Regions from separate parts of the Homo sapiens genome. Here all the other regions are linked to region 1. The links come from fine-mapping of genetic effects on gene expression. A gene starts in region 1. Each other region holds a variant in brackets. All regions are shown on one strand. Distances are from middle to middle.

Region 1 (2,760 bases):
CAAACTGCAAGAAGAGCGTGTACATGGCAGGACTATTGTGAGGATTCAATGAGCCTGCATGGTAAGGGCACCCATGTTGGGTGTCTGTCCACTTGGAATTGGGTCTCTCTTCCTTTTTGGTGAAATCCCCAGATTTTTCCCCTGGGGATCCTGGGATTGTCAGGATGAACTCCCCCTACTCCATAATCCTTCCGCTTTCTTGTTTTTTTGGTGTTTGTTTTAGAGACAAGGTCTCACTCTGTTGCCTGGGCTGGAGTGCAGTGGCACGATCATGGCTCACTGTAACCTTGAAGTCCCGGGCTCAAGCAATCCTCCCACCTCAGCTTCCTGAGTAGCTGGAACTGTAGACATGCACCACTGTATCCGGCTGATATTTTAATTTTTATAGAGATGCAGTTTTGCTGAGTTGTCCAGGCTGGTCTTGAACTCCTGGCCTCAGGTAAATCTCTTGTCTCTGCCTCTCAAAACACTAGGATAACAGGTGTGAGCCACCTGTTGGCTCACAACAGATGAGTCATTAACTCACCATTGACTCCATTTTATAAACAGTGAACCTGAGGTCCAGAGAGATTAAGTAACTTATCCAAGTTCACACAGTTAGAAACAGCATAGCCAGAATTCACACCAGGCAGTGTCTTTGGCATCTGTGCTATTAACCGCGATGCTATACTTTCTCTAATATACTAGTGTTATCGTTACTATTATGAAAGCTGCATGCATTTAATATTTATTGCCAATTGTCCTTTGGAACCAAATGCTCCTGGCTCAGTTTCCAGGCTTCCCCAGCCCTCTTGGTTATACTGACTCACAAGAGGACAGCAGGCATCAGTTAAATGAAAAAGCCCCAAGTTGCCAACAGCCTTATCAACCCCAGACCCCATCAGGCACCTGAGGTCTGGGACTGAGCTGTCTTGGCCCAGGGACACACACCTCTTGTCCCGTATGGCAGCCACCAGGGCTGAAATGGGGGACCTGGGTCTCCCTGCTGTGGAATAACCCAGGGGAAAGCAGGGGGCTCAGGCTCAGGTCCCAGTCATGCCAACCTTGGCCAAGTCACTTTTGTCACTGGGCCTTACCTGTCACATCTATGAGTTGAGGTAAGGACCACCAGTGCTGTCCACCTCACTTGTCCCCAAAGCCTTTCCCCAGAGGCCACCTTGGTGGCACTCCACAGCCAAATCCCTGGTGCCAGGGCTGGGACACCTCGGGCTGGCCCCTTGGCTGGCAGAATGCCCAACCCTGCCCCTCTGGCAGGCAGAACCCACTCTCGCCCTTCAGGGTCCCCAGCACAACACTTTCTTCTGCAGGGCACCCTGAATTCAATCGACATTCCCAGGAGGGCCTAGAACACGCTCAGGCCCTCTCACTCCCACCTGCTCAGCTTGGACTTTGCCCAAAGCCTCCCAAACTCCTGCAGCCTCTCATCAGCCTCTCATTCACACACACACTGAGCCCCAGGGGCCCCAGCTGGCCCCAGACCCCTTACCTCCCTGCCCAACTATCCCAGACCAGCGTGGCCCCAGCTCCTGCCCTCCAGCCTGCCAGGGAACCAGCTCTTTCCAGGAACCGGCTCTGTCCAGCTTCAGGCAGCTTCCGGCAACCTTGGTCCCTCCTCCTTTGTTAAAGAGAAAGCTCCAGACCCTAAGCCTCCGGGTGAAGACGGAGGAGGAGAGGGGATGAGAGCAACCCTCACCGCTTTCCCGGGCACTGCCTATGACTCATGCACCACCCTGTCTCATTTGACAGATGAGCAAACTGAAACTCAGAAAAGGGAACTTATTTGGCCAAAGCTTCCCAGACAGCAAGGGGCAGAGACAGCCTTTACCCCTGGCCCTGGGCCATCTCTTCCGGGATGCAGGCATCTCCATGTCTTCTCATTTTAGGTCTAGTGATTGTCCCGGATGCTGAACCACTGTTGGGGTCAGCTTAGGTCTGGGATGGGAAAACAAGGACAAGGGAACTTTTTTTTTTTGAGACACAGTTTCATTCTTGTCCCCCAGGCTGGAGTGCAATGGTGCGATCTCGGCTCACTGTTACCTCCGCCTCCTGGATTCAAGCGATTCTCCCACTTCAGCCTCCCAAGTAGCCAGGTTTACAGGCACCCACCACCACGCCAGCTAATTTTTGTATTTTTAGTAGGGACAGGGTTTGACCATGTTGGCCAGGCCAGTCTCGAACTCCTGTCCTCAGGTGATCTGCTTGCCTCTGCCTCCCAAAGTGCTGGGATTACAGGCGTGAGCCACTGCACCTGGCCAAGGAAACAATTATTATAATTATTATTTGTGACATGGGAAAGGTATATTTTTGTCTGAAGCACCTCTCCGTCTCGGATATTTTACACGCAGCATGAGAACCCAAGCAATTATTTGCTACTCAGATGAATGACTGACCATTCATTCATTCATTAAATGTTTATTGGACACCTACTATGTGCCAATCCCTGGAACTTTGGCCTCAAACAAAATAGCATGTCCTCTGCCTTCACAAAGCCCTTAGAGAGGGCCATTAGAGAGCACTTATTAGTGCTATCAGATGTTAGCAGCTGGCAGGGTGGGGCAGGGCTGTGGAACCCAGAGCAGGCACCCCGCCTGGCCCTGGGGGGCTGGGGAGGCTTCCTGGAGGAGGGGAAGTCTGAGTGGAGCCAGGAGTCAGGCACAGGGAGTGCAAAGGTCTGGAAATGAAAAACATGATATATTCCAGGGTCAGGGTAGTATCCAGTGGGGCTGGGAGGGAGAAGGCAGGGGTGGGGAAGCAAGTGGG
Region 2 (2,760 bases), 59 kb after region 1:
GCTATGATCACACCACTGTACTCCAGTCCAGACAATAGAGCAAGATGCTGTCTCATTAAAAAAAAAAAAAGAATCTGAGGGGGTAGGAGTTTGAGGAGACCCGGCGAGTGTGATGATGGGAGGAAGATTATAACAGGGCCCAATATGCAGATCCCCTCGTGATAAAAGCTGGCAGTGGATCAAAGGAGACCTCGGACAAACTGCGTAAAACCAAAAAAGCTGTGCAGCCGCGAGCCCCAGTAGTAACTGAGCGGCCAGTGGCCTCCTCCAGGGCACACCTGGTGAGAGCTACCCCTTCTAGCAAGGGTGGGCTCAGCCAAGGCCTCGGCACTGAGGCCCCGGAGACGGGCAGTGGTTAGGAACCCATTCCCTGGCCGGATGCTCATACAGCCCTGCAGAGATGGGCATAAAGGCCCTTCTTCACAGCAGGACTTCTCTTCAAAGCCAGAAAAGACGGGCCTTCCCGAAACACCCATCATTAGGGGCCTGATACAATAATCACACATGCCATAGCGGACTGCATGTGCTGATGAGCAAAGAGGTCAGAGATGAAGTTCAAAAAAAAGTCGAGAAGTCCAAATGGTAGGCACGAACTAAGCCCCTGTGTAAATGCATCACACACCACATATGCCTCTACATTTATATGTATGCAAGAAGGTTTAGGCCTCTTTATGCATAGAAAATTCTGGAAGAAAGAGCTAAAAGTCCGGGTGCAGTGGCTCACGCCTGTAATCCCAACACTCTGGGAGGCTGAGGCGGGTGGATCATGAGGTCAGGAGATCGAGACCATCTTGGCTAACATGGTGAAACCCCGTCTCTACTAAAAATACAAAAAATTAGCCGGGCGTGGGGGCGGGCACCTGTAGTCCCAGCTACTCGGGAGGCTGAGGCAGGAGAATGGCGTGAACCCGGGAGGCGGAGCTTGCAGCGACCCGAAATCGCGCCACTGACTCCAGCCTGGGCAACAGGGCGAGACTCCACCTCAAAAAAAAAAAAAAAAAAAGCTAAAAATGTTTATATCTAGGAAGAATGGTAGGGGGAGGCTTTTACTTCCCATATCCCATCCCCTCTTTCTAAACTGCTAGAAATTTGTTTTGTTTTGTTTTGTTTGAGATAGGGTCTCACTCTGTCACCCAGGCTGGAGTGCACTGGCGTGATCACAGCTCAGTGTAGCCTCACCTGGACTCAAGCAGTCCTCCCGTCTCAGCTTCTGAGTAGCTGGAACTACAGGCACGCACCACCGTGCCCAGCTAGTTTTTTATATTTTTTGCAGAGATAGGGTCTCACCATGTTGCCCAGGCTGGTCTCAAACTCCTGGGCTCAAGCAATCCTCCTGCCTCGGCCTCCCAAAGTGCTGGCATTACAGGCACAAGCCACAGCGCCCGGCCAGA[A/G]AAACACTTTAGAGTGTGTCTATAACTAGATGTGCTTATTAAAGACTACTCTTCGGCCAGGCACAATAGCTCACACCTGTAATCCCAGCACTTTGGGAGGCTGAGGTGGGCAGATCACCTGACGTCAGGAGTTCAAGACCAGCCTGGCCAACATGGTGAAACCCCATCTCTATTAAAATTACAAAAAAAAAAAAAAAATTAGCTGGGTATAGTGGCTCACACCTGTAATCCCAGCTACTAGGGAGGCTGAGGCAGGAAGATCACTTGAACCCAGGAGGCGGAGGTTGCAATGAGCCAAGATCATGCCACTGCACTCCAGCCTGGGTAACAGAGCAGACTCTATCTCAAAAAAAAAAAATAAATCAAAAGAAGATTACTCCTTATTCAGAGAGTATGTCCTTTCTGCTTGTTTGCTCTAAAATTGCCAATCTTTTATGAGATAAACGCTGACAGGGGTTGACAAATATTGCTCTCCTTTGTTTTTAATGCACTTGCTTGACAAAAATTAAAAGTTGGCAGCAGTAGGTCTGTTTCCTCAATCTTTTTTTTTTTTTCCTGGAAAATCTATGGGCCAAATTGCAATTTCATGCCAGGGGCAGCTAATGTCTCTAAGATGACTCAAGAGTCTAATCAAGGTGCCTCTTGAAAGAGGCCACATTGGAAAAAGTCAGACCACTGATATGAGCAGGGGGCCACAAATATCTCACAAATATCAGCACCCCACTTCCGCAGTCTAGTATGGCCTTGGATGCTCTCCATTATGTGGGATGCCCCCCATAACTGTGTCTATCACTCCTATCTCAGCCTTTTTTTTTTTTTATTTGAGACAGGGTCTCACTCTGTTGCCCAGGCTGGAGTGCAGTGGCACAATCACAGCTGACTGCAGCCTCGACTTCCCAGGCTCAAACGAGTAGCTGGGACCACAGGCATGCGCAACCACACCCAGCTAATTTTTTACTTTTTTTTTGCAGAGACAGGGTTTCACCACATTGCCCAAGCTGGTCTCGAAATCCTGGCCCCTCGCCATCCTCCTGCCTCGGTCTCCCAAAACATTGGGATTACAGGCATGAGCTACAGCGCCTGTCCTCCTTTCTCATTCTTGATGGTATAGATTCATCTCCTGTGATTGTTCAAAGAAACAGCTGGGCCTTATTTATCCATTTTACTGGGCTGTTTTTGCCTGTTGGTTGGTGGATTTGGGATGCTTCCCCGTTTACTAAATTTGTTAATTCCCTCTAACTTTGATTCACTTCCTCTCTCAACGGGATGGTGATTTACTTTAAGCAACCTCGTCGATAAGGTGCTGGTCAGTGGGATCAGATCAGGGAAGGAAGACAAAGTAAGGTTGGAGGATACAGCTTCCCCAGGA
Region 3 (2,760 bases), 74 kb after region 1:
TGGTCTATGCTGTTAACTAAAAAAAGAGATTGACACGGAGGTCAAAAGAAATAGCATTTATATAGGAAACAAAGAACTACGACTCGCGTACACTGAATCAGATAGGACTATTCAGGGCAGCCCTGAATAGCATCCCGTAAGGCAAGGGCAGGAGAGGTTTTTTATAAGGGATTTCCACAAAAAGTTGTTTCGGAGGCAGTTCATTGGCTGGGCGGAAATCCTCTATCGCAAGCCCATTCTGATTGGTTAGTTCATTAGGGTACTCCCAGCTAAGAGAGGTTGAAGGCGGTGGATTCTGACTTCAATTGTTAGCCAAACCGACTGGCACATTCTGCGATTTGACCTTCAGCCGGTGTGAGTGCGATCCTCCCACGGTCTCCCGACTCCCACTTTAGAAAGCCTTAGTTGTAGCTGCCTCATTTTCTTTCACGATATTGACATAATTCCTTCCCTCCCCGTCCCCTCCTGCACACTCACGAATGAAAGCTGGGGAAGAGCAGGCAGCTGGGGTTTTGGGGTGTGAGGTGTTGTCCCCTCCTCTGAGGCCTGATAACTGACAGCTGGGGCGGGACAAGATCAGGACCAAGTGTTGGGCAAGGTTGGGTAGGCGTCTGTGTCCCTGGAGGTCAGGAACAGAGGGAGCAAGGGAAGGAGGGAGGGGCCCGGCCTTGAAGGAGTAGGTGGAGGCCTCTGGAGATGGCCAGGGACACTGGGGAGTCACAGCTGGGCAGAGGACAGGCTGCGATCTGAGGACTGCTGAGGCAAATCCCAGCCGACCCAGCTGGCCTGGTGACCCCTGCACTGCTAGAAGCTCCCCAGAAATCATTCCTTCCTCAGCCTCTCCTGGAGGGTGAAAGGAAACCAGAGTCCCCCAGACAAGGGACACACAGCGGTCCTCAGCTGTGCTGATGGTCAAGAGCTGCATTGCTCCCACATTTGACGATCAAGACTTAAATTATTTTCTGGCCAGCTGCAGGGGCTCATGCCTGTAATCCCAGCACTCTGCGAGGCCGAGGCAGGCGGATCACTTGAGGTCAGGAGTTCGAGACCAGCCTGGCCAACATGGTGAAACCCTGTCTCTACTAAAAATACCAAAATTAGCCAAGCGTAGTGGCAGTCACCTGTAATCCCAGCTACTCGGGAGGCTGAGACATGAGAATGGCTTGAACCTGGGAAATGGAGGTTGCAGTGAGCCAAGATTGTGCCACTGTATTCCAGCCTGAGCAAGAGAGAGAGATTGTCTCAGAAAAAAAAAAAAAAAAAAATTTACCAAACAGGCTGGACACAATGGCTCTGTGCCTGGAATCTCAGCACTTTGGGAGGTTGAGGCGGGAGGATCACTTGAGCCCAGGAGTTCAGGACCAGCCTGGGCAAGATGATGAGACTGTGTTTCTCCAAAAAAAAAAAAAAAAAAAAAAAATTACAAATAAAAAATAAATCACCAGCCAGAAGCAAGGGCAATCAGCGTTTTCACCAGGCAGCGGTGTGGGGTGATGGTTAGGAGTGTGACAGTTGATTATATACAAAGTGAGTCATTCTTGTCATATCCAGGCAGAGAAGGCACTCAGAGCACATGGCACCTGCTCCAAGAATTAAATTTTGCAGAAGCCCAGCTGCTGAAACTGCCTGTTGTTACCCTAAGACTAGTTTTATCTCATAGCTACTGAAACACCCTGCTGCAACTCTAAGAGTAGCTTTACCCACCCCTGTGAC[T/G]CACCAATCACAGCTTCCAGCTCCCCAAAACTTTGCTAGTGCCAATGAACTTTTTTTCAAGACAATACGTTTCGGTTTTTTTTGAGACGGGGCCTTGCTCTGTTGCCCAGGTTGAACTGCAGTGGTGTGATCGTAGCTTACTGCAGCCTCAACCTCCTGGACACAAGCGATCCTCCTGCTTCAGCCTCCCAAATAGCTGAGACTACTGGCATGCGCCACAATGCCTGGCTAATTTTTATTTTTATTTTTGGTAGAGTGGGTTCTCACTGTGTTGATCAGGCTAGTCTCAAACTCCTGGGCTCAAATGATCCTCCTGCCTAGGCCTTCCATAGCACTGAGATTACAGGCATGAGCCACCATGACCAGCCCCTTTCTCCTTTTTATAAAACATCCAACCTGCTCTTTGTTCTTCAAACATACTGAAAACCACCCAATCTATGTGTATGCCCCATATTGTAATTCTTCCTTCCCAAATAAAACGCTAAATTTAGAGAGTCATCACTGTATTTTTATTTTGACTTCAGCAGGAGCATGGAGTTGTGGAGTCAGACAGAATTGAGTTCTAAATCCAGCTCCACTATTTGCTGGCTGTGTGACCTTAGGAAAGCGACCTTCCCTCGCTGAGCCTGGAAGAAATGAAAGCCTCTCCACACTGGCCCCTAGTGCCACCTCCTTAGACCTTCAGCATGCTTGCAGTCACAGACAAAGGGCAGACTTCACATCTCAGTATCTTGGTCTGTCTACCTCCTTTCCCCAGCCCCTGTCCAGGGGCCACCCCCCACTTCCAGCCAGTTTTTGAGGTCCCTACCATCCAAGGCCACCAGGCAGGCTGAAAAGATAGAGCTCCCCAGGCAGAAAGCACCCTGTATTAGTCCATTTTCATACTGTTATAAAGAACTGCCAGAGACTGAGTAATTTATAAAGAAAAGAGGTTTAATTGACTCGCAGTTCGGCATGGCTGGGGAGGCCTCAGGAAACTTACAATCATGGCAGAAGGCACCTCTTCACAGGGTGGCAGGAAGGAGAAATGAATGCAGGAGGATCTAC

The links. PIP is the estimated chance that this variant, and not a neighbour inherited with it, causes the effect. A credible set is the group of variants that fine-mapping cannot tell apart.
Region 2: its variant is the best candidate, but not a certain one, in a credible set for the expression of SDSL in whole blood (INTERVAL, PIP 0.76).
Region 3: its variant is the best candidate, but not a certain one, in a credible set for the expression of SDSL in whole blood (INTERVAL, PIP 0.73).

What each region holds. Positions count from the first base shown.
Region 1 is chr12:113,421,204-113,423,963 of GRCh38, reverse strand. It overlaps SDSL (serine dehydratase like), which reads right to left and starts at 1,584. Exons shown (of 8, transcript NM_001304993.2): 1 at 1,487-1,584.
Region 2 is chr12:113,361,781-113,364,540 of GRCh38, reverse strand. The region is part of intron 1 of PLBD2 (phospholipase B domain containing 2); the gene reads right to left. Among named protein-coding and RNA genes, the nearest start is that of PLBD2, 4.6 kb to the right of the region's middle. RefSeq lists an enhancer at 330-830. The variant A/G (reference allele first, on the strand shown) is at 1,392.
Region 3 is chr12:113,346,900-113,349,659 of GRCh38, reverse strand. No RefSeq gene overlaps it. Among named protein-coding and RNA genes, the nearest start is that of PLBD2, 10 kb to the left of the region's middle. The variant T/G (reference allele first, on the strand shown) is at 1,714.